Regions from separate parts of the Homo sapiens genome. Here region 2 is linked to region 1. Evidence: fine-mapped expression QTL. A gene starts in region 1. The other region holds a variant in brackets. All regions are shown on one strand. Distances are from middle to middle.

Region 1 (15,694 bases):
CAGTGGCACGATCTCGGCTCACCTCAACCTCTGTCTACCAGGTTCAAGTGATTCTCCTGCCTTAGCCTCCCCAGCAGCTGGGATTACAAGCATGCGCCACCAGGCCCATCTAATTTTTGTACTTTTAGGAGAGACAGGGTTTCACCATGTTGCCCAGGCTGGTCTCAAACTCCTGACCGCAAGTGATCCACACGCCTCGGCCTCCCAAAGTGCTGGAATTACAGGCATGAGCCACCGTGACCAGCTGGGAATTCAGGTCTTAAGCATGGGCTGTCCGATTCTCCTTGCTTGGCACTCTGTAATAAATGCCTCACTTTGTCTCGCTGCAATCCTGATGCCAGTGTTTGACTTTACTGCATTGGGTAGTGGACTCAAGTTCAGTTAGGTAACTTTAATGTTACCTAAATGTTAAGTTTAATGAAGCTACAGTGTTAGGAGTGGGTTGGCTGACAATACAATAATGGCCTCCATGCCATATGCAGGGAATCAGAATATGCCTCCCAAAATATGCCATTTTGAGGTAAGGATTATTTTGAGCTAAAGGCAATTGAGAAGAATCAGACATAAGAAAAAAATTATGCCCTCCTCTTCTCTACTAGGAAAGGAAGAAAGATTCTTAACCACTGGAGACCCTAGCCTCTTATCAGCCTAGAGATAGGACCAGAGGAATCTATGTAATGCATAATGCATCTTATAAAACAACACTTACCTTCTGTTAGTTTCCTGACATGTTTACTTTCCCATAGTTTGCCACCCCTAAAAGCCTAAACTCCTTTTCCTTTAGCTGGTTACTTCGTAGCAAATTTATTATTCTTTATTAAGATGCTATACAGGTCACGCGCGGTGGCTCATGCCTGTAATCCCAGCACTTTGGGAGGCGGAGGTGGGCAGGTCATGAGGTCAGGAGATGGAGATCATCCTGGCTAACACGGTGAAACCCCGTCTCTACTAAAAATACAGAAAATTAGCCGGGCGTAGTGGCAGGCACCTGCAGTCCCAGCTACTCGGGAGGCTGAGGCAGGAGAATGGCGTGAACCCGGGAGGCAGAGCTTGCAGTGAGCCGAGATCACGCCACCACACTCCAGCCTGGGCGAGAGTGTGAGACTCCGTCTCAAAAAAAAAAAAAAAAAGCTTCATAAAGCCTCTTGATTTTGATACTAACAACCCTTTGATTTTCTCGGTGTAATGTACTATGCTGTACTTGTTAATAAAGTGTTTCTAATAAACTGTGTTTCTCTTGTTAATTTATCTTTTGTCAGTCTAATTTGTAGGAGCATAGGCCAAGAACCTAGGAAGGTAGAGGAAAAAATTTTTCCCCTCCCTTACACATATTTCTTGCCTCAGCCTTAGATATCTGAGAACTTTTACGTTTTTTCTTGTATCTCTCATTTCTGTTTCTCTGTTTATTTTTGAGAGAGCCTCTGTCACCCAGGCTGGAGTGCACTGGCATCCACCTCCCAGGTTTAAGCGATTCTCCTGCCTCAGTCTCCTGAGTAGCAGGGACTACAGGCACGTGCCACCACACCCAGCTAATTTTTTTTTTGAGATGGAATCTCACTCTGTCACCCAAGTTGGAGTACAGTGGCGTGATCTCGGCTCACTGTAACCTCCGCCTCCCAGGTCCAAGAGATTCTCCCGCCTTAGCCTCCCGAGTAGCTGGTATTACAGGCGCCCACCACCACGTCCAGCTAATTTTTGTATTTTGAGTACAGATGGGGTTTCACTATGTTGGCCAGGCTGGTCTCGAACTCCTGACCTCAGGTGATCTACCTGCCTCAGCCTCACAAAGTGCTGAGATTATAGGCGTGAGCCACCGGCCAAATTTTTGTATTTTTAGTAGAGACAGAGTTTCACCATGTTGCCCAGGCTGGTCTCAAACTCCTGACCTCAAATGATCCACCTGCCTCTGCCTCCCAAAGTGCTGGGATTACAGGCATGAGCTACCATGCCCAGCCATCTCTCTCTCTCTTTTTTTTTTTTCAAAAAAGAAAACACTTTATTGAGGTATGATTAACATACAAAAAACTGTACATATTTCATGTATACAACTTCTTGGGTTTGGAGATGAGTATACACTTTTGAAACTGTCATCACAATCTATGCCATAAACATATCCATCACTTCTGAAAGTTTCTTTCTGTCTTTTTATTATTCCTTTTTTTTTTTCCCTCTGTTGCCTAGGCTGTAGTGCATTGCCTTGATCTCAGCTCACCGCAACCTCCGCCTCCCAGGTTCAAGCGATTCTCCTGCTCAGCCTCCCCAAGTAGCTGGGATTACAGGCATGCATCACCACCCCGGCTAATTTTGTATTTTTAGTAGAGACGGGGTTTCTCCATGTTGGTCAGGCTGGTCTTGAACTCCTGATCTCGTGATCTGCCTGACTCGGCCTCCGAAAGTGCTGGGATTACAGGCATGAGCCATCATGTCCCACTATTCCTTTTTTTGAAATGATAAGAACACCTATAAGATCTACCCTCGCCGGGCGTGGTGGCTCACGCCTGTAATCCCAGCATTTTGGGAGGCCGAGGCGGGTGGATCACCTGAGGTTGGGAGTTCAAGACCAGCCTGACCAACATGGAGAAACCCTGTCTCTACTAAAAATACAATATTAGCCGGGGTGATGGTGCATGCCTGTAATCCCAGCTGCTCAGGAGGCTGAGGCAGGAGAATCGCTTGAACCTGGGAGGCGGAGGTTGCGGTGAGCTGAGATCGCACCATTGCACTCCAGCCTAGGCAAAAAGAGTGAAACTCCGTCTCAAAAAAAAAAAAAGATCTACCCTCTTAGCAAATGCTTAAGTATGCATTATAGTACTATTGAATATAGGTACTATGCCACATCGTAGATCTCTAGGACTTATTCATCCTATATAACTGAAACTTCATACCCTTTGACTTATACCTCCCTGTATTAGAGCTCTGTAAACAAGACCACTCTGAATCTTGGGATAACCTCATAGTGCTATTGAGTTACAGCTCTACCTTTGTAATCTGAGAGACGAAAATAGATGCCCCTTAATAAACTAAGACAGACCCTAAGATAAGGAAACCAAGTTACTGATGGGTCAAGGGCTCAGGGCTTGGCTGGCAAATTTCTAAATTACTGTGGCTAAACTCCCTAAAAATAGGAGTTTTCAATTCTGTTATACAACCCAGATGACAACAACTCTGTCTGGATAGACAGCCATTACAAACATTCTTTTCTGATGAGCTGCTGCAGACCCCAGGTCAGTTTCAGCCAGCTTACAGAGGCAGCACACAAGCTGTCTTTGTGGCCTGTAGTTCACCTGTTGACATAAAGAGCCAAATTCCACCTCATTTTAATGCTAAAGCCCCATCACAAAGTGAACACGATGTATGTTACATATATGTGTACCAATTATGCATGTGTGCGCCTCCCCCGTAAGTATGTATAGCTTTTCCCCCAAGCCTGCTGACTATGTATGATACAGGCCCTGTGAGGCCTAAAACCCAACCTGTTATTTCCCTCTTTGAAGAGAGAGCACCTTCAGTCCACACCGGAGACTTTCTCTTCCTGGCTTGCAAACTGATAACAACAATAAAGCTCTCCTTTCTACCATTCAGCCATCCTGGTGGTCTTCTGAACACCTTCTACAGGGGTCATTCTGCACACTGGGCTAAGTCATTAGCCTTTTATATTTTAAAATGAGAGAAGTTTCCATTTGAATTTCCATTCGAAAAGCTGTCTTTAAAAGTACCAACTGATTCGGCAGAGGCTGAGAAATAAACTGATGTAAATGCAAACATTGAAAAATATGAATTAACAGCAGGGCAAGGGCTTTTTAAAGCAGACAGAGTTGATAAGTAAGCTGCATGGAACAGTAGTGCCCACAGGGTATTTCAATTTCTAAAGCTTTGGGGGAAACGGTGTTTGGAGTCCTCGAACACATCCAGTTATGCAATGCAAAGTGATGGAGGAATCTGTGTTCAAGCCAGAGTCAGCAGTAAAAGGGTCACAACTTTTTACTGAATTTTTTGTTTCAGGTTACTCTGTTGTTGGTCACATGTTTAGACAAATCAATTCACTTATCCAATCTGTGTTTATTTAGAACCCAGGAATGAGAAATGAGCATGGCTGATTTGGGCTAAAGGAAGCATACATGAAGTGAGATGTTTCTAGTGTCATGCACTGAGCTATATACCACCTTCACATCAGCTTGTGATCTTTTCATTACCCCTTTGGATGTAGGTATTATTATCTTCATTCTACGGAGGAGAAAAACTGAAGATCAATGAGGTTTAAGGAACTGGCTCCAGGTGGCTTAGCAAATGAGTTATACAGCCAGGGTTTGAGCCTAGAGAGAGCCCTATAGACAATCTGGACTTTTTTTTTTTTTTTGAGATGGAGTCTCGCTCCATCACCCAGGCTCAAGGGCAGTGGAGCGATCTCGGCTCACTGCAACTTCTGCCTCCCGGGTTCAAGCGATTCTCGTGCCTCAGCTTCCTGAGTAGCTGGGATTACAGGGGCGCACCACCACGCCCAGCTAATTTTTGTATTTTTAGTAGGGACGGGGTTTCACCATCTTGGCCAGGCTGCTCTCGAACTCCTGACCTCATGATCCACCTGCCTCGGCCTCCCAAAGTGCTGGGATTACAGGCATGAGCCACCGCGCCTGGCCAATTTGGACTTTATTGTATGGACAATTTCTAATTATCTACTTTTATATACTCCTTTTAGGTTTTGTTTGTTTTGTTTTTTTTTGAAAACCTCTAGTTTCAAGAGGAGTTTTGCTCTTGTAGCCCAGGCTGGAGTCCAATGGCACAATCTCAGCTCACTGCAACCTCTGCCTCCCAGGTTCAAGCGATTCTCCTGCCTCAGCCTCCCCAGTAGCTGGGATTACAGGTGTGCACCACCATGCCTGGCTAATTTTTTGAATTTTTAGTAGAAACGGGTTTCACCATGTTGGCCAAGCTGGTCTCGAACTCCTGAACTTGGGTGATCTGCCTGCCTCGGCCTTCCAAAGTGCTGAGATTACAGGCGTGAGCCACCACACCCAGCCACCTTTCAGGTTTTTGAATTTGGGAATGCCCTGATGAAAATGGATGGAAGGAAGAGCTCTGTGGTGGCCTTATTCAGAATTCATAGAGATAGGAAAGAACTGGAGTGCAAAGAGATGAGGTAGAAGGTTGTGGCAGCAATCCAGGCCCTGGAAACAGAGTGAGCAGAGTTTGACATGAGAAAACCTGATTCTAGCCTCTGCCAGGATGCTGCTGCTGGGAATGCTCGGGCTAGTTACAGCCACATCTCTGAAGCTTTGTAACTTCGGAGGGGAGGAAAAAATGGGAGTAATTTGCTTTTTTTTTTTTTTTTTTTTCCTAGGTTCTGAAACTAGAAAACCTCTAGGTTCTTTCAAACTCTAAAATTCTACCTTTAAATTGTAATGCATTCTAAAGATTTAGATATGAAGACCCTAAATACCATCCCGAGTCTAGGAGAGAATCTGGATGTAATACTTCTCAACATTATCTTCTCAAAGTACAAAGAATAGAATTGGCTTTAAGAATGCTCTCTAAACCAGATTATATTGAGACAAGCCTATCATTTCTGCATCACTGTTTTCTTTGTTTAAGAAAACGATTTGGGTATTGCTGCTGCAGCAGTGGTTGATGATATTAAAATCAAATAAAAATATTACTCTTGAAACAAATGAAATGATTTAAGCCTATCTCTCTAAGAAATCGCATGAAAATATACCTAGGAGGCACACATTGTATTGTCATCAAATTAATTTGTTTTCTAAGCTCAAATGTAATTTAAAATGAGATATTTCTTCAACTGGTTCAATCAACAGACAGTAGAAGGATTCTACGGAGAGAACACAGGAAATAAACCCTACAATAATGTTAGAGCAAACAATCGGCACTATAGTTCTGTCTTCTATTGCTTGTGATGCTTCTAGAAAGTATTTTTTAACGGCTTCCTGATGAATTGGCTCTTGGTATCAAGCCAGGCTCATCTCTGGCTCACATCTGCAAACTTTTCCCCATCCTCACGTCCTACAACAAATCCATCTTCAAGACCTGCAAAGTTCTTGGTCTCAGCGTTTCTCAGAACAGACCCTTCTTCATCTTCACAGACACGGGGTTGGGGATCCCATTCCTGGGTTGCGAAATGACCTTCTCCTTAGAATGACCCAAAGTGCAAAGGCATCTTCCTGAAATAAAGCTTTCATCAAGCCATTTCTGCTATGGAAACCTCCAGGGATTCCATTGCTTATGGGATCCAATTTAAATGCTGCAGTTGAGATCCCCATTGTTTCAGTGGGCAAGTGCATTATACTTCTTCACAGACTTTAAACCTCCACATTCGAGATTTTGCTACTAGGAATGTTTTGCCCTTTCTCTGTGCCAACTCATGGCCATCAGCACCTCCAATTCTGTCTTGAAACTCACTTTCTTACAGATATTTTTCTTGTTTAATATCTACTTAGTAGATACTAAACAGCAAAGTAGCAGTATCTACCCAGTAGACACTAAATAGCAAAATAGATACTGAATAGCAAACTATTTAGTAGATACTAAAGTAGCAAATAACTCCTGTTTTTGAGCTTTTAATCACATTTAGTGCTCTTAAGATAAATTATCCAAGTCTGGGGATAAACAACTCACAGAGATTTTCATTCTTTAAGAAGCCACCGAGAGTGATTTTACTTAAAAGACAGCACTCACATTTTCAGTTGTCTGCCTTTTCACTAGGAATCCACTTAAGAACCAGCGCAAAAGGACTCCGTTTGGCGACCTCTAGCGGGCACCGGACAATCCTACAAAATTACGAAAAGTAGAGGGCAATGAAAAACTCTTCCCTTTAACCAGCCAGGTTACCCTGTGGTCAGATGACCGCATCTCACCCTACCCCACCCTTATTTTTTTCTTCTAGTATTTGTTTTGCATCTAACACGGTTCGCCTTACAACTCACCTGTCTCGCCTCCGGCGGGCTGGGCTGCCGGTGTCGGGTGTCAGGTGAATGAATTGCTGGTAGCAGTTTAAAATAATCCCTGCCAAGTGGAACCCGCTTTCTGGGCACGGACAAGAGCGCGGGGTAGATCGCTCTGCGGAGCCTTCACGGGGCTCTTCCCGCTCGGAGGGCCGGTGCTGCAGCCGGGTCAGGGGTGCGCGGGGGAAATCAAGATATTTTGAAAAGGAGGATGCAGACGAAGACCAAGAGAAAGGCTGTTTTTGCCGGTGACAAGGCGTTCCTCCCCAGACTTTCATCCCACTCTAAGGGCAGCATCTCGAGAGGGTCCAGGCGCGCTACACGTTAGGCGCCTTCTCAGGACTCGCGCCCCAGAACGTGGGGGCCGGGGCCGGGTCGGGGACCGCTTCCCTCCGCGGGCTGGCAGGCGGCACCGAGGCTGGGGGATGGGGCGTGTAGCCGCCCTCTGAGCACGCGGTACGTGGGTCGCCCCGCGCGGCGGTAGGAAGAGCAAAGTCGGCAGGAAAAGCCGTGGCTGGGATGCCTTCCCTGAGAAATCCTTAGGGGCGATGTCAGAACCCGAGCTGGGCTCCGGACAGTTTCTGGAAAAAGCTCTCCAAACGCCGTCTGTCCCCGCACCCGAGTCCACACTGGGCTTTGAACCAGGGCTGTTAAAAGGGGCCCTGGGGACTGCCCAATTCATCCCGATGGCCCAGGGCAGGACGCGGGAGCAGGCATCCCGGCGCTGGGCTCCCCGCTCCCCCGCCCTGCGGACCCCTCCCCGCCACTACGGGCCGGAGCGGAGGGGGAGGACGGCGTCACGAGGCGGGGAGCCCGAGGTCCAGGGCGGGGCGCCCGGGAATCCCAGCCCGAGCAAGCCGGGGAGGTGCGGGCGCGGGCGGGAAGCGGAGGGCGGCGCGGAGGGAGGTGAGCGGCGCGCGCGGAGCCGGCGGGCGAGGAGGAGGACTGCACAGAGGCCCCGCCCCCGCCGCCGCGAGCCGGCTCTTCGCCGCCTCCGAACCCGCTCACTTTGCCTCTCGCCTCTGGACGGCGGCGGGGCGGCCGCCGGATTCGCGGCCGCAGGGAGCGCCGGAGACGGGGAGCTATTCCGCCCCGGCGGCTCCATTCGGCGCCCGCAGCCCTCAGGGGGTCGGCCCCGCGGCTTGGGAGAGGGCACCGCGGCCTCGGTGTGCGCAGCCCTCGGGCGCGAGGGTCGGCGGCGCGGACACAGCCGCGTTCCCAGCCGGTGGGGCTCAGCGCTGGCGCCGGCGAGGACTCCCCGGCCACCCGCAGGTACCGCCGGGCGGAGGGCGCGCTACTAGCAGCGCCGGAGATACTCGAGCCCAGGGACCCCCGGGCCAGCGGAGGGCAGGAGCGGAGCCCCGAGGGAGCGCGGGCCCCGACGGCGCGCTCCCCCGTCAGCCACGGGCAGGCAGGCCCCGCGTGGCGGCTTGGGGTGGGGGGCTGCAGCGGGGCCCTCGGGCCGAAAGTCCCCCGGGCGGCCAGCCATGACCTTCGGGCGCAGCGGGGCGGCCTCGGTGGTGCTGAACGTGGGCGGCGCCCGGTATTCGCTGTCCCGGGAGCTGCTGAAGGACTTCCCGCTGCGCCGCGTGAGCCGGCTGCACGGCTGCCGCTCCGAGCGCGACGTGCTCGAGGTGTGCGACGACTACGACCGCGAGCGCAACGAGTACTTCTTCGACCGGCACTCGGAGGCCTTCGGCTTCATCCTGCTCTACGTGCGCGGCCACGGCAAGCTGCGCTTCGCGCCGCGGATGTGCGAGCTCTCCTTCTACAACGAGATGATCTACTGGGGCCTGGAGGGCGCGCACCTCGAGTACTGCTGCCAGCGCCGCCTCGACGACCGCATGTCCGACACCTACACCTTCTACTCGGCCGACGAGCCGGGCGTGCTGGGCCGCGACGAGGCGCGCCCCGGCGGGGCCGAGGCGGCTCCCTCCAGGCGCTGGCTGGAGCGCATGCGGCGGACCTTCGAGGAGCCCACGTCGTCGCTGGCCGCGCAGATCCTGGCTAGCGTGTCGGTGGTGTTCGTGATCGTGTCCATGGTGGTGCTGTGCGCCAGCACGTTGCCCGACTGGCGCAACGCAGCCGCCGACAACCGCAGCCTGGATGACCGGAGCAGGTACTCCGCCGGCCCTGGGAGGGAGCCCTCCGGGTAGGACGCACTGCTTCTCTACCCGTCCCGTCCGTCCTGTCGCGTCTGTCCGTCCCGTCCATACGTCCCGTCTCCGTCCTGTCCGCCTCCGGGCGACCGAGCCAGCGGGGTGCGCGCCCAGCGAGGCCCAGGCGCGGCCAACTACGGGACCGGTCGGTCCCCACTCCTACCCCGTTGTCCGGGGCACCAGCGGGGTCTGGCCCTTACACTAGACGCACCTCTTGAGGGCGAAATCCTCAGGCATGGGGAGGGGCGTGTAGAGATAGACAAATGTCCCCTCTTTGTAGTTTACTTTTGCGCAGAGAGCAACCTGCTAATTACATTTTTCTGAACTTTTATTGTTAGGGTTCAACAATTAAGCCTTGAACTAAGCGCAGTTTGAATTATTTGCCAATTTTTGGTAGTGTTTGGAAAGATGGATTCTTGTTATGGTGAAATGTGCACTCTCCACACATTCTATACACTCTGCCCCCGGCATACTATGTGCTGTAATGGAATCGTTATATTATAAAGCAGGTTAATTTATCGATAGACTCTAAATAATGGATGTCTGTGCCCTTTTCTTCCCCCTTTTCCTACAAAGTATGGAGTTAGCAAACCTCTTGTCCACCGTTTGGTAGCAAAGATTCACACTGCGACTTTCAGAGGGTCTATGATATGGGAAGGGAAAAAACCATTACCTTGAGAACAAAGAAAAATCTAAACTGTCCTAAATCCAGAAAACAGTATTTGGGTAAATTTTTTTTTCTACTTTACTAGGATGAATGGGAAAATATTGCAGTCTTTTCTTAGACTGTCTTACCTTGAAGTGGTGATAGCACTTTCCTGTTTTTAGTACAAGTGAGCATATTCAGTGGGAGGAATAAGCAGACTAAGGATGGACTTTCAAAGAAGACAGCCTTTTGGGGCACAAAACCCAAACTGCATATTATAGTTTATCTGTTTGACACTGTCTTAAGATCCTCCTTCCATTCATTTTTTAAATTTAAGGTTGTGCCCTGTCATGTTTTACTGATAGGCATGTACATGTTCGGAACGGCGGCCTTGCTATTGCAGTGGATTACTTCTACATAATATTCTTCCTGTAGGGAGTAAGGATTTTTATATAAATCTAAGAAGTAAATAAAATTGTCTAGTGCCACGGAGTCTATTATTTCTTCTTGGCTTGAAATCGAAGATACATGCTTTGAAAGGAAATTCATTAGGAAACTCATTTTGTTTAGTGAATTAGGTTCTAACAGTTTTGAATTTACAGATAAGAGTTACTTATTTGGTTCTCCAACAATACAATGAAATTAATTTATTTACCTAAATACATAAATGCCTTTTTTTTTTAAGGAGGGCTTTAGGAAAATGGACTTGGAATTTTGATTCTCCAGTAACTGTAGAATTCTAAGGTTAGTGAAGGTTTGAGCTACATTAGCAAAGGAAACAGGAGAATTGAATTATTATTAGTGCAGATAATGAGGGAGTTGACTGAACCAGTATATGAGCAAAACCAGTAAAATACCTCAAATATAATCTTAGGGGGAGGGAGGGTGTTTTGGGAGAGGGAAAGGGCCATATGGAGATCATTAATGTAAAGCATTTGTAAAGAAATGAGAGAAATGCATAGTAATTTTAGGGAGAGAAACACAAGAAACAAAAAAGGGAAGACAGAGATGGAAAAGAGGGAGACTGCAAAAGAAGTGAAGGGAGAAAAGTAATGCTTATTTGTGTATATGTATTTTATGTATGTGTATAATTATTCAAGTCAGAGCTGTTTCCTAGATACTTAGATATTTCAGGCAAAAGCATGTTTTTCTTAGCTTAATGGCCCAGTTTTAGCTTCACTGTCTGAGTGTAGGTATATGAAAACCAATATCTGCAATCCCAAACAGATAAACTGCAGGATGGCCGAATGAGGATGCTGCTCATTACAGAGGAAGCTCCCCTCTGCCCTTCAACAGAGAGGGCCCTTAACCTGTCACTTTAAGTATAGTCGTTAAAACCCTGCTTGCTTGTGGTTGCTGAAATTAGTCTTTCTAAAACATCATTCTCATTATTTGACCATATTTTGCATCTGCCAAATAAAGCCAAAACTTCTTTCTTGGCCTTCAAGGCTCTTTACAGTTTGATGACAACCTGCCGATCTTGACTTACTCCATCATAGTTTGCAAACATCTTTTGAATATCTGTTATGTTCAAGGCACTGCTGGTGTTCCAAATATTGTAACTTTCTGTTGTAAAGAAAAGTTGGTGTCAAGTTGGTGGTGTAGGAATCAGAGGCACAATTGATCTCTGAGAGTTCCGTTGTTCAGAGAAGGCCTTCAGGGTGGTGGAGGATGGAAACAAACCATGGTTGGAAGGTTGCAGAGGTTGTGCACTGCCCAAACTAGCAGGGAGTGTCATTTATTTTATTTTATTTTATTTTTTGCATTTTTAGTAGAGATGGGGTTTCTCCATGTTGGTCAGACTGGTCTCGAACTCCTGACCTCAGGTGATCCACCCGTGTCGGCCTTCCAAAGTGCTAGGACTACAGGCGTGAGCCACCGCGCCTGGCCAGGGAGTGTCATTTATATAAATTCTAGTTAATGCAACCTGTACAACCATATGTGCCCTGCCTGGGAACAAAATAAAAGAGATTTTTTAAGATAAAAGGAACATCGTGGGCAAGAAACTTGTATATGAAGTTTATGGAAGCGTGAGTCCAGTGATGGAGTGAGAGGTGGATAGAGAGCAGATGACAGAAGGCCTTGAATTCCAGGGAGAATAATTTTATTTTGCAGGCAGTGGCTAGCCATTAGCCAGTTTTGTGTTTAGGGTAAATGGGTTATGCATATAAAGTAGTACATGTGGTACATGTGTTCTGTGATTTGGAGAGAGGGAAGATTGTACACAGGAAGATGAGTTGGAGATCTTCCCAGAGGGAGGGGATGAGAGCTTGGATGGCTTTGTGGTGGTGGAGAAATGGAGGAGAAATGACAACTCTGGAAAATACCAGGAAGAGTCAAAATTAATCCAGGGCATTGGAAGGGCACAGGCATCAGGGACTGATGAAGTGGACTTTCCAGGAGTTAACAGTATCCTCTGCCACTTGCAGTCTTCATTTGTCCAGCCTGGCCTGCTTACTTCTTCCTGAGCCACTCAAATGTCCCTTACTGTGCAATGCCTAGCCTGCTGAAATTGGATTATTCATCAAGCCCAATTCAGATTCTATTCCTCTCTTGAAGCATTTACTGATCACCCTAGTGGATGTGATGTTTCCTCCTGAACTCCTTAAGGAATTGCTTATTTGTACTATTTATTTGGCATCTATGATATCCTTCTTAGCGTGATGGTTATATTTTCATATAAACATATCCTGGCTCCTAAGTTGGATTAGATAAAAAGTCCTAGAAGGCAGGTAAATTCTCTTATACTATTTGTTATTAAAACATCTTTTATTTTGTATTTTTGTTGATTGATTGAGAAGAGATCTCACTCTGTCACCCAGGCCGGAGTGCAGTGGTGCGATCAAGCCCACTGCAGCCTGGAACTCCTGGAGTCAGGTGATTTTCCCACCTCAGCCTGTGGAGTAGCTGGGACCACAGGCATGAGCTACCACGCCCAGTGAATTAAGAACATTTTTTGTAGACATGGGGTCTCACAGGCCAGGCGTGGTGGCTCACGCCTGTAATCCCAGCACTTTGGGAGGCCGAGGTGGGCAGATCACAAGGTCAGGAGTTCGATATGGGGTCTTACTATGTTGCCCAGGCCTGTTGTGAACTCCTGGCTTCAAGCAATCCTACCACCTTGGCCTCCCAAAGTATTGGGATTACAGGTGTGAGCCACTGTGCCCAGCTGAAATACTAGGAAATAATTCTTAGTACTTGCCAGAGTTGTCATTTCTCCACTACCGCAAAAATTGCTATTCAGGCACCATAAATATCTATTGTTTATATAACATTTCAAAATATAACCTTCCAGAACTATATCTTCTATTGTATAATTTAAAATGCTGTTTGGGGCCAGGCGTGGTGGCTCACGCCTGTAATTCCAGCACTTTGGGAGGCCGAGGCAGGCGGATCACCTGAGGTCAGGAGTTCGAGACCAGCCAGACCAACATGGTGAAACCCCGTCTCTACTAAAAATACAAAAATTAGCTGAGCGTGGTGGTGGGTGACTGCAATCCCAGCTACTCAGGAGGCTGAGGCAGGAGAATCACTTGAACCTGGGAGGCGGAGGTTGCAGTAAGCCGATATCACGCTACTGCACTCCAGCCTGGGCGATAAAGTGAGACTGAGTCTCAAAAAAAAAAAAAAAGAAAAGAAAATGAATAAGGTCTATCAGGAAACAGCCTGTTGTCCCAGCTACTCCAGAGGCTGAGGTGGGAGGATCACCTGAGCCCAGGAGTTGAAGGCTGCAGTGAACTATGATTCAGCAACTGCACTCCAGCCTAGGCAGCAGGGAGACCCTGTCTCAAAACAAAACAACAAAAAAATCAAGGAACAATTATTTATCAAGTACTTAATGGTACGAAAGGAATAAAGATAAGAGTATGGTTTACTTTTATGAACCTCCGAAATTTTGGCACAGTGCACAATCTAAAGTTTGGAAGAAATCTTAGGTCTTCCAAAGCAATATTTTAGAACTTTTTATGTATGAGGATAATCCTTTTAAATTGATTTGTTTTAGATGGTTAATAATCATATAAAAACGGTTCAAAATCTAAAAGCTACAAAACTAAGCCTTTCTCCATTCTTCCAGCCATTCAGTTCTTTTCCCTAGATGTAACCAAAGTTACTAGTTTTTGGTTTGTCATTTCAGAGACATTTTATATATTTGTAAGTACATTATATATATTTACAAAAGCCAGAAATACAGTGTAATACACAGTCCTGAAACTTGCTTTTTAACTAACAGTGTGTCATGTAGATCATTCCATGTGAGTCCAAGAGCTCCCTGATTCTGCAGCTTCGTAGTATTCTACTGTAGAGATGGCCCATAGTCACTATACATTTATGTCGTTTCTTGTCTGTAGTAAACGCTGCAGTGATTATCCTGTTCATATATATTTTACTTCTTTTATGCAGGTATATCCATAGGATACATTCCTGAGAGTTAAATCATTGGGTCAAAGGAGATATGCACTTGTAATTTTCACAGATAATTCCAAACTACTCTCCAAAAAGATTGTACTGTATCAATTTATGCTTCCACCAGCAATATAGGAGAGAGCGTGTTTCTGCATACTCTGCAAAGTATTTGATCTTTACTATGCTGAAAAGTGAAAAATGGTATCCAGTAGTTTTGTTTTATTTTGAGCAAGATTTTGCATCTTTACATATATTGAGGAGTCATTCATCTTGCTTTTAAAAATGAGATATTTATACCTTTTTCTGGTTTTGTCAATGACTTTCTTAGTTTGAAGATTAAAAATAATATTAAGGTTGCAGTGAGCTGAGCTCACGCCACTGCATTCCAGCCTGAGTGACAGAGCAAGACTCCATCTCAAAAAAAAAAAAAAAGAAAGAAAAAAAAAAGAAATTAGCTCTTTTTATGATATTAGTTGCAAATACTTTGTTTTCTAATTTAGGACCCCATTAAAAGACAACTACAATTGCCTAAAACATAGTAGCTGCACTTTCACTATCTATTTGTTGAGCAAAAATGCATAATGATTAAAAAAAATTGTGAATTCTTTTTTTTTTTTTTTTTTGAGACAGAGTCTTGCTCTGTCACCCAGGCTGGAGTGCAGTGGCACGATCTCAGCTCACTGCAACCTCTGCCTCCTGGGTTCAAGCGATTCTTCTGTCTCAGCCTCCCAACTAGCTGGGATTACAGGTATCCGCCACCATGCCCGGCTAATTTTTGTATTTTTAGTAGAGATGGGGTTTAACCATATTGGCCAGGCTGGTCTCAAACTCCTGACCTTGTGATCCACCTGCCTCTGCCTCCCAAAGTGCTGGGATTACGGGAGTGAGCCACCGTGCCAGACCAATAATTGTGAATTCTAACCATTCATCAACTCTTGAGCTCCTGTGATTGTGCCAGGCGCTGTGCCAGACAGTATGGGCACAGAGGTTCCTACAAAGGGTTCCTGCTGTCATGGAGCTGGGCAGTTAGTGGTGATAGAAGCAGACAGCACAGTAAGCAAATCATTTCAGATTGTGAAAGGTGACGTGAGTTGAGTGAGAAGAGTGTTCTGGGTAGAGGGAGCAGCTAATGCAAAGATGCCACTGAGATGGCAATGGGCTGGGCTTGTCTACAGGACAGAAGGAAGGCCCATGTGGGCTATAGTTTTGTCCAAGGGTAGATGAGGTTGGAGGGCAATGGGACCTATCAGGCAGGGCCTGTGTGCCATGGGAAGGAGTTTGGATTTTCTTCCAAATGTGACAGGGAGGTCTTTGGAAGGTTTTAAGCAGATGAAAGCTATGATATGTGTTTTAAAAACACCACTGGGTAGAGAATGAAGGGAGGGTCAACAGCAGATGTGGAGAGACCTGGCAGCTGAGAGCATATGGACCTTGATCTTAGGGAATAGCAGTGGAGACGGTGAGACGTGACTGGATTCAGGTGAATTATGTGGGTGTTATTATGTCATTAATGACAGCTCACCTACCAGGAC
Region 2 (15,694 bases), 510 kb after region 1:
TGACAGCGTGTTGTAGGAATGTGTGTGTGTGTGGTGAGTGCATTGCATGTGAGTGTGTAGTCTGTGTAAGTATATGTCAGTGTGATGTGATGTGGATATATGGGTGTGTGAGTGGGAGTATCTGTGGATGATTGTGTATTCCAGTTTGCAAGTTGTGCGTGATGCTGTGGTGTGTGGGGGTGTGTGAGAGTGCGTGTGGGGGTGTGTGAGAGTGCATGTGGGTATGTTTCAGGGATGTGTTGTAGGAATGACCTCAGGGACCACAGCAGCCTTTGCAGAAGGTGTAAGTGCCCCAAGGGAAGGGATGGCATCTGCTGTGCTGGAACCCAGGGCCTAACACAGTGCCAGACATAGGAGATGATCAATAACCCTTTTCTGAATGAACAGCTGCCTCCCCTTTTCTGGAGTGCAGGAAACAGAATCTGTTCTGTTACCATCAGCTGTGGCCTTGACTTCCTTTCAGGAGGCTTTGTCCTCTTGGACAAAGTAAGAGAGCCGTATTTTTTTTTTCTTTCAGATGTTAGTAGCTGAAACTTGAGGGTAAAGGGATAAATTCTTGAAACAATTTAAGTCCTAGTAATGTCCTGCCTCTTTAAATGAGCGTCACTCAAGTCAAGGGTTGTAGTTCGTTTTACTTGGCGTCTATACACTTTTTGTACTTTCTAAATCTTCTAAATTTTTTGAGTCTGAGAAAGGAGTTATTAAAAAAGGAATCTGACTTTTCCATGTGCACTTGTGCTGTAATTGTGTAAAAGCTCTTGAGGTGCTGCCTTGGACCCTTGGGTTGAATTCAGACTGCTTGCCTTCCCCCACCCCCACCCCATTTTCCTGTCCCAACCCGCTGTTTCTCCTTCTGGCCCTGATGGCTCCTGCCATTCTGCCTTTGGGCTTTGTGTCTCAGCCTCTGTTATTTCTCTTCTGTTTGATTGACAGCCCATTTTGGTGTCACATTTCTAGGCTGACCTCTGCCTTCTCCAGCAGAGTGCAACTCTGGGACTTACCCTGGGGCCTCACGCTCTGAGCCAGGCTCAGGAGCCCTCATTTACCCTACGGGCCACAGGCTGGGCACCCAGCACCAGCCTTCCAGGCTCAGGAGGAGGCTGAACAGTAAGAATTAAACATGCTGGTGTCTCTTTTAAAAATCTAGCTTCTCCCTTTGTATTCTCCTGTCTGTGACACAGTACCCCCTTCCTCTCTCTGCTTAGAACTGGCAATTATTCATCATTTATAAATTGAAGATAATCCCATTTCCTGATGACTCCTGCAGATCAGGGGTTGGAGGAGAAGAGTTTCTTAAGAACTTCCATCCCTGTCTACTATTCACAGAGGAAATAACTCAAATGCCTCTATTTCTCAACTATGAACTTCTAAGGTCTGGTTCTTTCCAAAGAGATTTCTGTGTATTAAATCCTTTCATAATGGCAGTAGTCTTCTATCAGATTTTAAACCCAAAGGACAATTGTTCCAGGTACATTTCAAGCTACATATGGCAGACAGCTGTCGGTCAAGACCACCAGACTGTGGGGCAGCAGCACTTCTCTCCCCAGAGACCATTCCTTTCTGTGTTTCCTTTGACCTGGGGTGAAGTTGGAATCGGAGCTAAAATTAGGGCTGAGAGGCAATCTAGGATTTATTGGAGTGGATGTTGGTGTTGAAGTTATTTTAGTTATTTTATTCAGGGTGAGCATCGGGTTAGGGAGGCTGGGGACTTGGATTCAGATTGCTATGGTATTAAAGCACAGTGGGTAAGGGTCCGGTAAGGTTAGGGTTAGGTTGGATTAGGGTTCCATGCAAGGCTGGGGTCAGTGTGTGGTTGCTGTTGGGGTCAGCATTAGGGCTGGATCAGGTGCTTTGCTGGACTGTTGGATGCTCATTGGTGGGGAAACTCCATCTGGGGATTTTGCCACCTGATAGGGTTTGGCTGTGTCCCCACCTAAATCTCACCTTGAACTGTAGTTCCCATAATCCCCAAGTCTTGTGGGAGGGATCTGGTGGGGGGTAATTTAATCATGGAAGCTGTTACCCTCATGCTGTTCTCGGGATAGTGAGTTCTCACAAGATCCGATGATTTTATAAGGTGCTTTCCCCCATTTTGCTTGGCATTCTCCTTCCTGCTACCATGTGAACAAGGAGGTGTTTGCTTCCCCTTCCCCCATGATTGTAAGTTTCCTGAGGCCTCCCTAGCCCTGTGGAACTGTGAGTCAATTAAGCCTCTTTCCTTTATAAATTACCCAGTCTCGGGCAGTTCTTTATAGCAGCATGAGAAAGGACTAACACACCACTCCTCAATGTACATTCTCATGGAGCCAAACCCTTGGTCCTGCCATGCAGTTTTAGGCTGAATGAGGCAAGGGCATGCTGTTTTCCCTCTGGGGTTTGGGGTTTAGGTGCCACGTATTAACTCGTGGGAAGCTTGGCAAGACCCATCCTTGGGGTTCATCTCTTCTGGCTCCCACAGAGGCAGGCAGGCGGGTGAAGGCAGCAGAGGGTTCAGATGTTTGTCTATCCTCCTCCACTGCCAGGAAGTTAGGGTAAGACTAAAGGACTTAGTCTCAGGATCTGAGGCACACAGTGGGCCTGCTGGGTCCCCGTGAGCGTTAATGGCCAGACACAAACTCCTCCTGTCCTTGTACCTGGTGCCCGGATGACCAGTTTGCTCTCTTCAAGCACTTTGAAGAAGTAGCTGAGAATGGCAATAAACTGATTCCGGTCCTCTGTCTCTGTGAAGGGCTAGACAGGCAGCATCTCAGTGCCTTTATGGGCTATTTCTGCAGAAGGACAGCAGGCAGACCCAGATAAAGAGCCCACATGCCCGCAGCCCATTGCCTACCACTGCAGACATCGCCATGGCCTGAATGCTGCCCCTTGGGCTTCTGCTCTTGCCAAGCCCACTGTTCCCCACACTCTAGTCACACCGATGCTACCCTAAGCACCAACCCCAGATGCCTCCATAGCTTTGTGGATGCCACTCATCAGCCTGGAATGTCCCCTCACATGCATCTACAGGGTCCCCTCATCTCCCAGATCCAGCCCTTGTGACACTGCATTGCATGTCTTTGTTTATGGATTAAATGTAGGGACAGTGTCTTGTTCATACCGTATCCCCAGAACCTGGCACAGGGACTGGAAGAGAGTGGATGCAAGGTCAATGTCAGTTAAAAGATGGAAGAGCAGGAAAGACCAGGCCCTCAGGCTAATGCAGTTACATGTATTTTATTAGGACTTAGGTCTTTTTATAGAGCATCTTCAGCTCCTCCATACTTCAAACATCTCTATGCATTTTTATTTGCTCCCGTTTTTTCACTAGTATTGAATTCAGTAAACCTAGCAAGTAACCATATCTAGGTGGTGTGGGAGTATGCAACACTCCAAAGTACATTACAGCTGCAAAGTTGGAAGCTTAAAATGCCTCCTCAACATCACTGACAAACAGAACACATAGATAGAGGGAACCTTTCCTATTTCCCCTAGCCATGCCTTGGCTTTCTGACGAAACTTGACTCCTAGTAAGTTTTATTTATTTATTTTCCTTTAAGAGCTAATATTTATTGTACCCTTAGTATACCTAGAAACTGTTTTAGGCTCTTTTCCCCCATGTATTAATTCATATAATCTGTTCAACAACCCTGTGAAATAAGTACAATTATTATACCTATTTTACAGATGAGGAAACTGAGGACCAGAGAAAACAACTAGTTTTCCAGAGCTCTCACCATTGGTATGTGGCAGAACAAGGATTCAAAGCTAGATGATGTGGCTCCATAGTCCATGCTCTTACTGTTCCTTTCTACTGCTTCCTAAAATATCTCTCAAATTCATGCCTCCTTTTCTCTTCCAGTAGATACCATTTAAACCCTCTTTTTTTGTATTTTTATTTCTATTATGTTCTGAATTGATCTCCCTAGGCATATTCCATCCTTTTTCTTTCTTTCTGGGCACTATAGTCAGGATGACCACTGTGAAAGGATAAATGTCATTCCCCTGTCCCCCGCCCCATTGTGGTGGCTTAGAGATGATGCCTGCAACATCTTCGACATTCTACACATGGGAGTTGGGTTCTAATTCCCTCCCTTGATCCGGGATCGCCTTACTGACTCGCTTGGCCAGTAGCACGCAGTGGAAGTCAATGTCTGGAACTTTCAAGGTAGGTCATACATGACTTTGAAGCTTCCACCCGGGTCTCTTGGGATCCTCCCTCTGAGCCACCTCGTAGAAAGTTTGACTAACCTATTTATAGCAACATACTGGAGAAGCCATTCACATCAGTAGTTCTAAATGAGTCTGGCCCCCCAGCCATCAAGGCACCAGAAATGTAAGCAAAGCCAGCTTCGACCCTCCAAACTAGACCATTTACCATCTGATGCCATCGAATGACCTTCATGGAGACCATAGAAGACATGAATTGCCTAGCTGATCCCTTCACAAATTACCAGCCCACAAAGTTGGGGGATAAAATACAATGGTTACTGTTTCAAGTTGTAAAATGTTGAGATGGTTTGTTGTGCAGTGGTAGATAACTGGAACTTCATTATTTTTTCTTTCTCTCTTTCTCTCTCTCTCTTTCTTTCTTTCTAACTGATACAAGTTTTTGATATCATCACAAGGGATACAGTCATGAGCAAAACATATTCAACCTTGCCCTCAGGGGCTCTGGCATTAAACAATAATACAAATAAATATATTCTTTAAAAGGTATAAGTCATCAGTGCTGCCAAAGTAAAAAGTGCCAAGAGAAACATTAATGGGGAGTCAAATTAGGTTTCCGTAAGGCAGTAATAGTTGAGCTGAGACTTGAAGGATTTAGTTGGATATAGGACTGGGGAAAGGGGTAGGAGAGCATTCTGGGCTGAGGGAAGAGCTGGTATGATGGTCCTAAAGGCTGGAAGTTGCTCGATGCTTTGGGGCCCATGTGGCTGGAGTAGAGTGAGGAGAAGTAGCCAGAAATGAGGCTTGACGTGAGGGACATGTGGCTGACTCTGGTGCACAACTCTCCATGCTGCATTGAAAGAGCTCCACATCTGTGTTCCCTACCACATGGGAGCTCCTTGAGGCCCTGTTCCAAAGTTTTAAGTGATACCTCATTCTAGAACAACAACAAAAAATACACATATTAAAGTAACATTAACCAGTTCCTTCAGGATCTGCCCCATGTCTAACTCTGTGGCCTTGTTCCCAGACATCTCCCTTCCAACTCTTGGCGCTTCTGCTATCCAGAACCACATCAGCTTCCTGAACAGACCAATGTCCACCTGCACCTGGGCCTCTGCATGTCTCTTTCCTCTGGTGGGTTGCCCTTCTTCTAGTGTTGCTTGGCTAACCTCTATGTTTTCTCAGACTTCTCAGCTGTCGCCTCCCACATGGCAAGTCCAGTGGCGCTGGGGGCCTATTTATCTGGGCTCCCATAGTCCCCATGCATCCCTCTGTGGTAGCGTAAGCCACAGGTGCATCATAATTGTGTCCTTGTTGATTATCTTTGGACTCTGAGCTCTTGTAGGAAGAAGTGCCTTTTATCCCCTTAGCTTCTTCCTTTAGAAGCTTTTGACAAAAGTTTATAAATGGAAAGGCCAATAATTCCAGCTTGATATTGTATACAAATTTAGTAAACATGCCATCAGTTTCATCCTCATCACTGATACAAAGTTTGAACAGGGCCGGGCACGCTGGTTCACACCTGTAATCCCAGCACTTTGGGAGGCCGAGGAGGGCGAATCACGAGGTAAGGAGATCGAGACCATCCTGGCTAACACGGTGAAACCCCGTCTCTACTAAAAAGTACAAAAAATTAGTTGGGTGTGGTGGTGGGCGCCTGTAGTCCCAGCTACTCAGGAGGCTGAGGCAGGAGAATGGCGTGAACCTGGGAGGCGGAGCTTGCAGTGAGCCGAGATGGTGCCACTGCACTCCAGCCTGGGTGACAGAGTGAGACTCCGTCTCAAAAAAAAAAAAAAAAAAAGTTTGAACAGAGTAGGACAAATGTGAACACGGAAGCATCTTTGAATCTTCAAATAATCCCTGTCATTTCTTCTTTCCTATTCTAAGAAATTTTATCAAGAGCAGAAATTCAGATGAACCATGTCCACTCTCTTCTCCTAATCCAGCAGTATAAACAGTCTATGAAAAAAAGTGAAATGAACTTGGCAGGACAGAGGAGCCTTTAAAGAACCCACTCTGTGTTCAAAGACCCTGTTGTTCCTTTCTAAGAACCCCAAATGATTTTTAAATCTGTTTTAAAATTTTTTTATACTGTTTAAAAATTTTTAAATCTGTTGAGGCTCAGGTGCCTGTCATGGTTTTCCCACATACCTAGGCTCTATTCCTCATTTTCCAGGGAGTGGCTGAAGATTTCTAAATCGAGAGGGATTCCTTTTGGCTTGAGTGCCGTGCTCAGAATCTGTCAGACCCTTCTCAGGAATGGGACAGCTGTGCACGAAGAGCTCATGAATCACACCCTGCTCCCATGGGCATCTCTTGATACCTTTTGATGAAGAGTGAAAAGCGTTTTGGAAAAAGCTAGCGATGGTTTATATGTAAAGGGAAGGTGGTGTGATAGGAAACAGTGAGAGATTGAGGAAAGAGCAAACCTTGAACTGGGAGTCTGAAGATCTGTGTGTTGGTTCTGACTCTTGCACCACCTTGCTGTATGACCTTGAGCAAGCCCTTATCACCCTCTGTCCTCAGTTTCACCACCTGTGAAAGGAAGGAATTAGAAGAGCTTTCCCAAGGATTGAATGTTTTTTTCCGCAAATAAAATCTTCTGCCTGTGGGTTTTAGCCATTTTAGGGGTCACAAACTTCTCTAGGAACCTGATGATACTGTGGAATCTTGCCCTGAAAATACCCAAACACACACACATGCACACACACACACACACACACACACA[CAA/A]TCTATTCTAGAATCTTGCCTGAGATTGATAGCCTACAGTTACCAGTAACTGCCTCTTCTGTTTGGACAAGTCCTAACCATGTCTGCTCAGCTATAGAATTCCAGCATCTCTCTCAACCTTCCTGATGCATTGAAGTTACCGATCTATTTCATCTACAGGTTCTCGGGGGTCCCTGGAATGTAAGACATGAGCCAAGGGATCCATGTTTAGAAAAGCCTCAGACTCAAGCAACCTTGTTACGTAACTCCAGCTTCTGAACCAACTGACAATATTTGCTCTTTCTGATTTTATATCTTTCCTAGAATATGGAAGCAAAATCGGATTTGACATCGTCCCCTTCCTTCCATGACCACTGATATCACTCCTCTGCTCCAATTACAGCCTCAAGAGTGGATCCACACCTTCCTTCTTCTAAGTGTAATTAAAGAGGCCCTTTGTGCCGCCTTCAGATTTTTTTTTCTTGTCCCAACTTTTCCTGTGCTCTTGTCTCCGTGGAACTATTCATACAGGTCAGTATCATTTTCCTTCTAGAAAATGAGTCCATTGGAAAGCCTCCCGGTTAGCCATAAAACTTGAGATCCCAGGGAAAGATGTGGTCTTTCTTGCTGGAGACTGACTCAGAGATTATTTTCATGAAGCCAAGGAGTTTAAGCTCAGAGCCCCTCCCTTGTTTAAATCCCCTCAAGGACCTGAGGGTAAGAACCCTAGTATTGTGTCCTAGGGGCGATATATTTTAGCAAAGTTACAGAAATCAGATAAAATATATATATATATATATATATATATATATATATATATATATATTTATTTATATATATATATATATATATATATTTATTTATTTATTTATATATATTTTTGGAGACAGTCTCTCTCTGTTGCCCAGGCTAGAGTACAGTGGCATGATCTCAGCTCACTGCAACCTCCGTCTCCTGGGTTCAAGCGATTCTTGTGCCTCAGCCTCCCAAGTAGCTGAGATTACAGATGTGCACCACCACGCCTGGCTAATTTTTGTTTTTTTAGTAGAGACAGGGTTTTGCCATGTTGGCCAGGCTGGTCTCAAACTCCTGACCTCAAGTGATCCACCAGCCTTGGCCTCCCAAAGGGTACAGGCATGAGCCACCACGCCTGGCCCAGAAGTCAGATATTTTAACCATGACCGCTAAGATGTCTGTCTCTTTCCACTCTGATTTCCTTGCCTTCACATTTCTGTTTGTGCTGAGTGGCCTTGGAGGGCCTTGGAGATTTGCTGGGATCCAGCTAAGCGGAAGTTGAGTGTGGGATGCTTTTAGTCTGGGTTTAGTGAGATGTATTTATGTGGCCTGCAGTCACTTTAATGGGTATTTAAGTTGTTGCTGGCCATCCACAATGGGAAGGGCTCGTGGGGCCTTCTCTGCACTACCTGGCATGGAGAGGTGCATGGCTGGAGGGCATTTCACATCATGAGTGTGTCTTTTTGCAACCCCATTTACCCAATATTTGGGTAGTAAAAGGGAGACCAGGTTTGGAATGTATAGAACTGGTATGAGTTTCTTTCCTAGGGCCATTGTAACAAATTACCACAAACTGAGTGACTTAAAACAACGGAAATACAATCTCTCATGGTTCTGGAGTCCAAGAGTCTGAAATCAATGTGTCGACAGGGCTGCACTCCTCTCAAAGGCTCTGGAGAAGAATCCTTCCTCTTCTCGTTCAGCATTTAGTGGCTCTAGGAGTTCATTGGTTCGTGGCTGTGTAGCTCCAATCTCTGCCTCCGTCTTCACATAGCTGTCTCCTCCACGTTCGTGCCTTCTCTTCTGTTTCTTCTAAAGATGCTGGTCATTAGATTTAGGGCTCACCTGGTAATCCAGGATGATCCCAAGATCCTTAATTACATCTGCAGAGACTCCTTTTCCAAATGAGATCAAATTCACATGTTGATGGAGTTAAGATGTGGACATACCATTTTGGGGGCTATCAGTCAACTCACTTCAGAACCATAAGCTAGTCCAGGAATTTTTTTTTTTCATTAGAAATGTAAAACTGTAAGTTATTGGTTCTTAACAATGCCAAGTCAAAATAAAAATTCTTTCCTTCCAGGAATATAGTCAATTATAAATGCATCAAACATTTTTTTTCTTGATGTGAAATATGATTTCATCAGAATTCATGTGTTTGTAGGGTAAAAATTTACAACAATCCTGCACACAGCTAGAATGCTTACCTATAAGGTCACATGTTTATGATTTTCAAGTTATCACTGAATCATATGAACAATATTAAATTTTGTGCTGGTTTGAGATGAAATACTGACAGTAAGACAATATAAAACTCATAATAAACTACAATGAGAACATCAACAAACTAATGACTATTGTCAATTAAATAATTTTTAGGATGAGTCACTGTGCAAGAAAACTTGACATGCCCTGAAATATTATAGCTCATACATGAAAGGACCTCAATAGTGGTTTTCCCAAATATGACAATCCTAAAAACGTATGTATTACCAATATTAAGTTATGAAGCTGAAAGAAATTCTTCTCAACCATCAATAATAGAAAACAAATTTTGTCCAAGCATGCTAGAAGAAAGTTATTTTTCTTTCCTTCCTTCCTTCCTTCCTTCCTTCCTTCCTTCCTTCCTTCCTTCCTTCCTTCCTTCCTTCCTTTCTTCTTCTTTTTTTTTTTTGGAGACAGAGTTTCACTCTTATTGCCCAGGCTAGAGTGCAATGGTGCGATATCGGCTCACTGCAACCTCCGCTTCCTGGGTTCAAGCGATGCTTCTGCCTCAGCCTCCAGAGTAGCTGGGATTACAGGCAAGCGCCACCATGCCCTGCTAGTTTTTGTATTTTCAGTAGAGACAAGGTTTCACTATGTTGGCCAGGCTGGTCTTGAACTCCTGACCTCAGGTGATCCACCCACCTTGGCCTCCCAAAGTGCTTGGATTACAGGCATAAGCCACTGTGCCTGGCCCGAGTTATTTTTCTATACCCTCTATAAAAAACGATACCACAAAACCTTTGATGTAAGAGGAATCCATAAAAGAGTACACAGCAAAACAAATACATTTTTCCCTGAAAGTATTATAGAGGTATGTCAGGAAGTTAATTAATAAACATGCCATTTTTCTGGGTTTTGTGATATTTATCAGCTTAAACATTTAAAAAATGTAATTTAAAAATGTTGTGAATGATTTCCTTATTCTAAAAAAATACACAGTCATATCTAATTTTGTATTTGTAAACTTGCCTTCTTTTTCTTAAAGACCACCCATCAGGTTATACCAACAACAGGCCCAAGTCATGAAACCTGGAGCAGCCTTGGGTTTGAATGCTTCCTTGATTTTATTTCACTGCCTCTGTGGGTGACTTGCCCTTCATCAACTAGCCCTTTTCTCCCTTGCCTCCTCCATCTTTCCTTCCCTCCTGGTTCCTTTGCACATATACACATTCAGCTTGCTCCCAACCCACGCACATTTCTGTCTTTGCAGTTACTTCTTCGTTGGCTATTCCTCTTGCTGCCCAAGAAAGACAGTCGCTGCCTCTGCTCTCTCATCCCACCCTGTCCCCATCCTATTAAAACTGCTCTTTGCAGGGTCACTCACATCTCCTTACTAATTGAAGCACCTGGGACAGCTTTGTCAGGTTGGGTTGACCAGCGTGCAATGGTTCGCTCACTCCTCATTCGGGGTCCATGCATACTCTTAGATCTCCTCCCCTTCATTGCATTTCAAGTGTTACTTGTTCAGCATCATTTTCCCCAAACACCAGATCCTAGCACACAGCACGGAAGGAAAGAGGAATAAATAAGAACCAAGTGCCCACTATGTTCCAATCCCTGTGCTTGGCATTTTCATATATTTTGTTGATTTTCATATACCTTCACTTAATCCTTGCAGCAACCTGGATATAGATCATATTAATTCCCACTTTTAACCAGTTGGAAAACAGAAGACCCAACCAATTGGGAAATAGAAGTTTCAGTAACTTGCTTAGGATTTCACTATTAAATGACATAGGGCCGTGTTTGGATTCAAGGCCTGCCTGTTTCACTTTCAAGTCCACACTTTGTCTGCTAAGCTTTTCTGTCTCTGGATTGCTTGGGGAGCAGGGACACAACTATCATTTTTCAAATAGAATTAACTGACAGGGCCGTCCTCTTAAAGCTCGTCCACTGACTTTGCTGATGCTATACTTTCCTGATTCTTCTGTCTCTCATTTCTTGCTGCCTTCTGTAGTTTCTTACTCTCAAATTCAGCTCTCTTCTGTCCATTCTCCCCCATGCCTCTGCTGTCTACTCAGATAGCTTCAGCAGTCATTTCTTGGAGGATGACTTCAACTGCAGAATTGCTAGTAGGCGCCAGGCGCGGTGGCTCACGCCTGTAATCCCAGCACTTTGGGAGGCTGAGGCAGGCAGATCGTGAGGTCAAGAGATCGAGACCATCCTGGCCAACATGGTGAAACCCCATCTCTACTAAAAATACAAAAATTATCTGGGCCTGGTGGCATGCATCTGTAGTCCCAGCTACTCAGGAGGCTGAGGCAGGAGAATCGCTTGAACCCGCGAGGCGGAGGTTGCAGTGAGCTGAGATCACGCCACTGTACTCCAGCCTGGTGACAGAGACTTCATCTCAAAAAAAAAAAAAAAAAAATTGCTGGTAAGATTTCCGGTCCAAGCTCCAGTCTTTCTTCTGTAACTGTCCACCCATAATCTTCTCTCCTCTCCAAACCATCTGCTCCTGAGTTCCCATTTTCCCAGTCACACATACTTTAAACCTGGGGAATGGGTGTCACCTTTGTCTGTTCCTCACCTATTTAGTTCATTCAACAAACATTATTGTGTAGGTATTCTGTGCCCTGCACTATGCTGGGCCCCAGAAATTCACTGATGAGCAAGACAGAGTCTTAATCCTCAGGGAGCAATATTCTAGTCATAGTCAATTGATACCAACTCTACTGTGTCCCATCCTTTGCCTTGTCACTGCTATTTTCCTTGTTCACGTTCTGGTTGGCCTGGTCTTATTGCCTATGGTCTCCATGCAGTTTCCTTCCTATTCTTTAAGGATAACAACAAATGATTATATTTTACCCTCTGTGCTGAGGACATTGTCTCTTTTATGGTTCCTTGGGAAACTTCTAGTCCCTTGGTATGATTTGGAGTTCATTCTGCGTCTGCTAGCCACTTCTAGGGTGGATTATTTATCCATCTTATGGTGAGTCTGGTGAGTTTCCATTTTAAAGGTTACACTGGCCCTAGGCATTGGCCAGTCTAAATTGCATTTATAAAGGATCCTCAATCGACGTTGATATGGTCTGACTGTGTCCCCACCCAAATCTCATCTTGAGTTGTAATCCCCATAATCCCCAGGTGTCGAGGGAGGGAACTGGTGGGAGGATGGATGGATCATGGGGGTGGTTTCCTCCATGATATTCTTGTGGTAATGAATGAGTTGTCATGAGGTCTGATGGTTTTAAAAGGGACTCTTTCCCCTTTGCTCTGTCTTCTCTCTCCTGCCACCATGTGAAGGAAGTCCTTGCTTCCCCTTTGCCTTCCACCATGATAGTAAGTTTCCTGAGGCCTCCCCAGCCAGGTGGAACTGTGAGTCAATTAAACCTCCTTCCTTTATAAATTACCCAGTCTCATGTATTTCTTTATGACAGTATGAGAGAGAATTAATACATGTCTACCTCCAGCTGTCTCTCTCCAGCAGAATTCTACCTATCCTTCAAGGCTCTGTTCAAGTACCTGCTCCACTGTGGATTCTTTCCAGATCATCCCCATGCCCAACTGAATGCCATTTTCCACTTGTGGAGCTTTCTGTTGGTGCCTCTGGTTTTCAGCAATTACTGCACTGTACTTTGTAATGTAGAATTATGTCCCCTACAAGAAGGCAAGCTCCTTGCAGGTAGGGGCTTCTCTTTGCTCATTTTTGACCTTCTGGCTATCGAGCATTGTGCCTTGCCCATAGCAGGTGCTAAACAAATGTTGGCGAGTTAATGTATTTTCTGTAGGTCTCCCTTTCTTTCCTATTTAGCTCTGTGTCTACTCTCTGGTTCTTCTTCTTGCCTTTGCTCTGGCGCCATTATTTCTGTTTCATCTCATCTTCACAGAATGTTAGCTTTAAGAGAACTTACAGATTCCCAAGTCGAATGTTTCCTGTACTAGGCTGATCATCAGAAATACCTGGTAGTTTTTAAAACTTATTTTTATGTAAAAAATTATATTGGAGGGCTGGGCGCAATGGTTCATGCCTGTAAATCCTGGCACTTTGGGAGGCGAAGGTGGGACGATCACCTGAGCCCAGGAATTTGAGACCAGCCTGGGTAACACCAAAAAGATCCTGTCTCAACAACAACCAACCAACCAAACAAACAACAACAACAAAAAACTAGCCAGGTATGGTGGCACATGCCTATAGTCCCAGCTACTTTGAAGGCTGAGGTGGGAGGATCACTTGAGTCCAGGAGTTCAAGGCTTCAGTGAGCTATGATATGATTGCGCCACTGCACTCCAGCATGGGCAACAGAGCAAGACCTTGTCTCCAAAAAAAATCCCCAAAATACAAAAAACCCAACCAAATATATTGGTATATATAGTATAAGCAGTAAAGGAGTACAAATCTTAAGTGTGTAGCTGGGTGAAATTTTACACTTTTGTAACTACTATCGATATCAAAATGCAGAATATTTCCAATATGGAGAACATTCCCTCATGTGTACTCCTAGTTTATATCAATCTCCTCAAGGTAATTGCTATTCTAACTTATCTCATAATAAAACAATTTCATCTATTCTAAAAGTTTGTGTGTATATATATATATATATATATATAGTCTTTTGTGTATATATATATATAGTCTTTTGTGTATATATATATATAGTCTTTTGTGTCTGGCCCTTTTCTTTCAATGTTTTTGTCTGTGAGATTCATCCATGTTGCTGTGTGTATCTGTAGTTTGTTTTCTTTATTGCTATATAGTATTCCATGGTAGAAATCTAGCACTGTGTAGCACTGTTGATGGGCATTTGGATTGCTTCCAGTTTGTTGACTATTACAAATAAAGCTGCTATAAACATTCATGTGCATGTTTTTTGGTGGCTACCTGGTGGTATTAGTCAGGGTTCTCCAGAGAGATAGAACCAATAGGATCTATCTATCTGTCTGTCTGTCTAACTATCTATCTATCTATCTATCTATCTATCTATCTATCTATCTATCATCTATATTTTTAAAAATCAGTACTTAAAAAAAATATATATATGTGTATATATATATATATATATATATATATATATATATGAAATAAGGAATTGAATCATGTGGGTATGGAGGCTGACAAATCCCAAGACCTGTAGTCAGCAAGCCGGAGACCCAGGAGAGATGATGGTGTAGTTTCAGTCTGAATGCCTGCAGGCTCAAGACCCAGAGAGAGCTGATGTTTCAGTTTGAATCCAAAGGTAAGAGAGAACTGATGTTCCTGCTCAAGACAGTCAGGCAGAAGGAGTTCCCTCTCATTCAGTCTTTTTGTTCTATTCAGGTCTTCAAATGATTCGATGAGGAACACCCACACCATGGAGGGCAATCTGTTTTATTCAATCTACCAATTCTAATGTTAATCTTGTCCAGATATCCCCTCACAGACACACCCAGAATAATGTTTGGACAAATGTCTGGGTACCTCGTGGCCCAGTCAAGTTGACACATAAAAAAACCATCACATATGCATTCATTTCTATGGAGCCTCCAGGATCATAGGATCAGACATAGGATCATAGCCTTAGTAGATACTGCCAAACAGCGTTCCAATGTGATTAAACTGATTACACTCCCACTAGCCGTGTGTTAGCATTCTCCTTGCTCTATATTTTTGTCAAAACTTGATATGTTCAATCTTTTTCATTTTAGCCTTCATGGTGGGTTTGCGGTGATCTCAGTGATGTGCTGGAGCCAGCTTGTGGGGCTTGTGAGAGTCAATTGTATACACCTCTTCCCAATTCTGCATTCAGTGATGTCGCATTGGTGGCTTGAAATTGGCCATGGTGGGAGTTTTCACACCAAAAAAAAAAAACAAGAAAACCGCAAATCAGGCTTTTTCCCCTGAAGTATCAGTTATTAAATATTTACCAGTGTACCATTGGTAGTGGTATCTTACTGTGGTTTTGACTTGCCTTTTCCTGATGAGTTATGAAAGAAACATCTTTTCATATGTGTATTGGTTATTCATATATCTTCATTTATAAATTGTCTATTTATGTCTTTGGTCTACCTAAAATGATATGTTGTTATATTTTTTCTCTTTCTTGTTGAGTTGTAGGAGCTTTCTTCATATATTCTGGTTATGAGTTCTTTGTGGGATGTACATTTAACAAAGATTTTCTCCCACTCTATTGCTTGACTTTGTACTTTATTTTAATGAACAGACATTTAAAATTTTAATGAAAGTACAATTTATCGATCATTTCTTTTTGGTTTGTGCTGTTTATATTTTGTTTAAGAAATATTTACCCCAATCACTTGAATATTTTTAAAAATTACTGATCTGGGGGTTTACTGAATCAGGCTTTTGAGTATAAGACCCAGGGATCTGTATATTTTTGAAGCTAATGCAAGTATAAATGACTTTTAGACACCTTAAAAGTTTCTCAACCTTTTTTGTAATAAGTGAAATGTAAGTTTTAACCAAAATAAAATGCTATTTTCTTTTATTTATTTTTTTTGAGACAGGGTCTTGCTCTGTCACCCAGGCTGGAGTGCAGTAGTGTGATCTCCACTCACTGCAACCTCTGCCTCCCAGGCACAAGCAATCTTCCCACCTCAGCCCACCAAGTAGCTG

Alleles and levels. Alleles are on the strand shown, and positions count from the first base shown. SD is a standard deviation of normalised expression in the study named.
In carriers of allele A in region 2, the expression in monocytes of the gene that starts at base 7,960 in region 1 tends to be lower than with CAA alone (moderate effect, 0.48 SD a copy in CEDAR).

What was found.
Region 2: its variant is fine-mapped to the expression of KCNG3 in monocytes (CEDAR, PIP 0.95).

The regions. Positions count from the first base shown.
Region 1 is chr2:42,486,248-42,501,941 of GRCh38, reverse strand. It overlaps KCNG3 (potassium voltage-gated channel modifier subfamily G member 3), which reads left to right and starts at 7,960. Exons shown (of 2, transcript NM_133329.6): 1 at 7,960-9,105. The coding sequence starts at 8,441. It also overlaps a transcript of MTA3 not described here. RefSeq lists enhancers at 6,639-6,933, 8,258-9,015, 9,016-9,773 and silencers at 7,688-7,767, 7,858-7,907, 8,088-8,177.
Region 2 is chr2:41,975,278-41,990,971 of GRCh38, reverse strand. LOC105374517 (a long non-coding RNA gene) reads left to right here and starts at 2,292. Exons shown (of 3, transcript XR_940000.2): 1 at 2,292-3,718; 2 at 5,177-5,283; 3 at 7,262-7,616. RefSeq lists a silencer at 269-563 and an enhancer at 2,664-2,833. The variant CAA/A (reference allele first, on the strand shown) is at 6,878.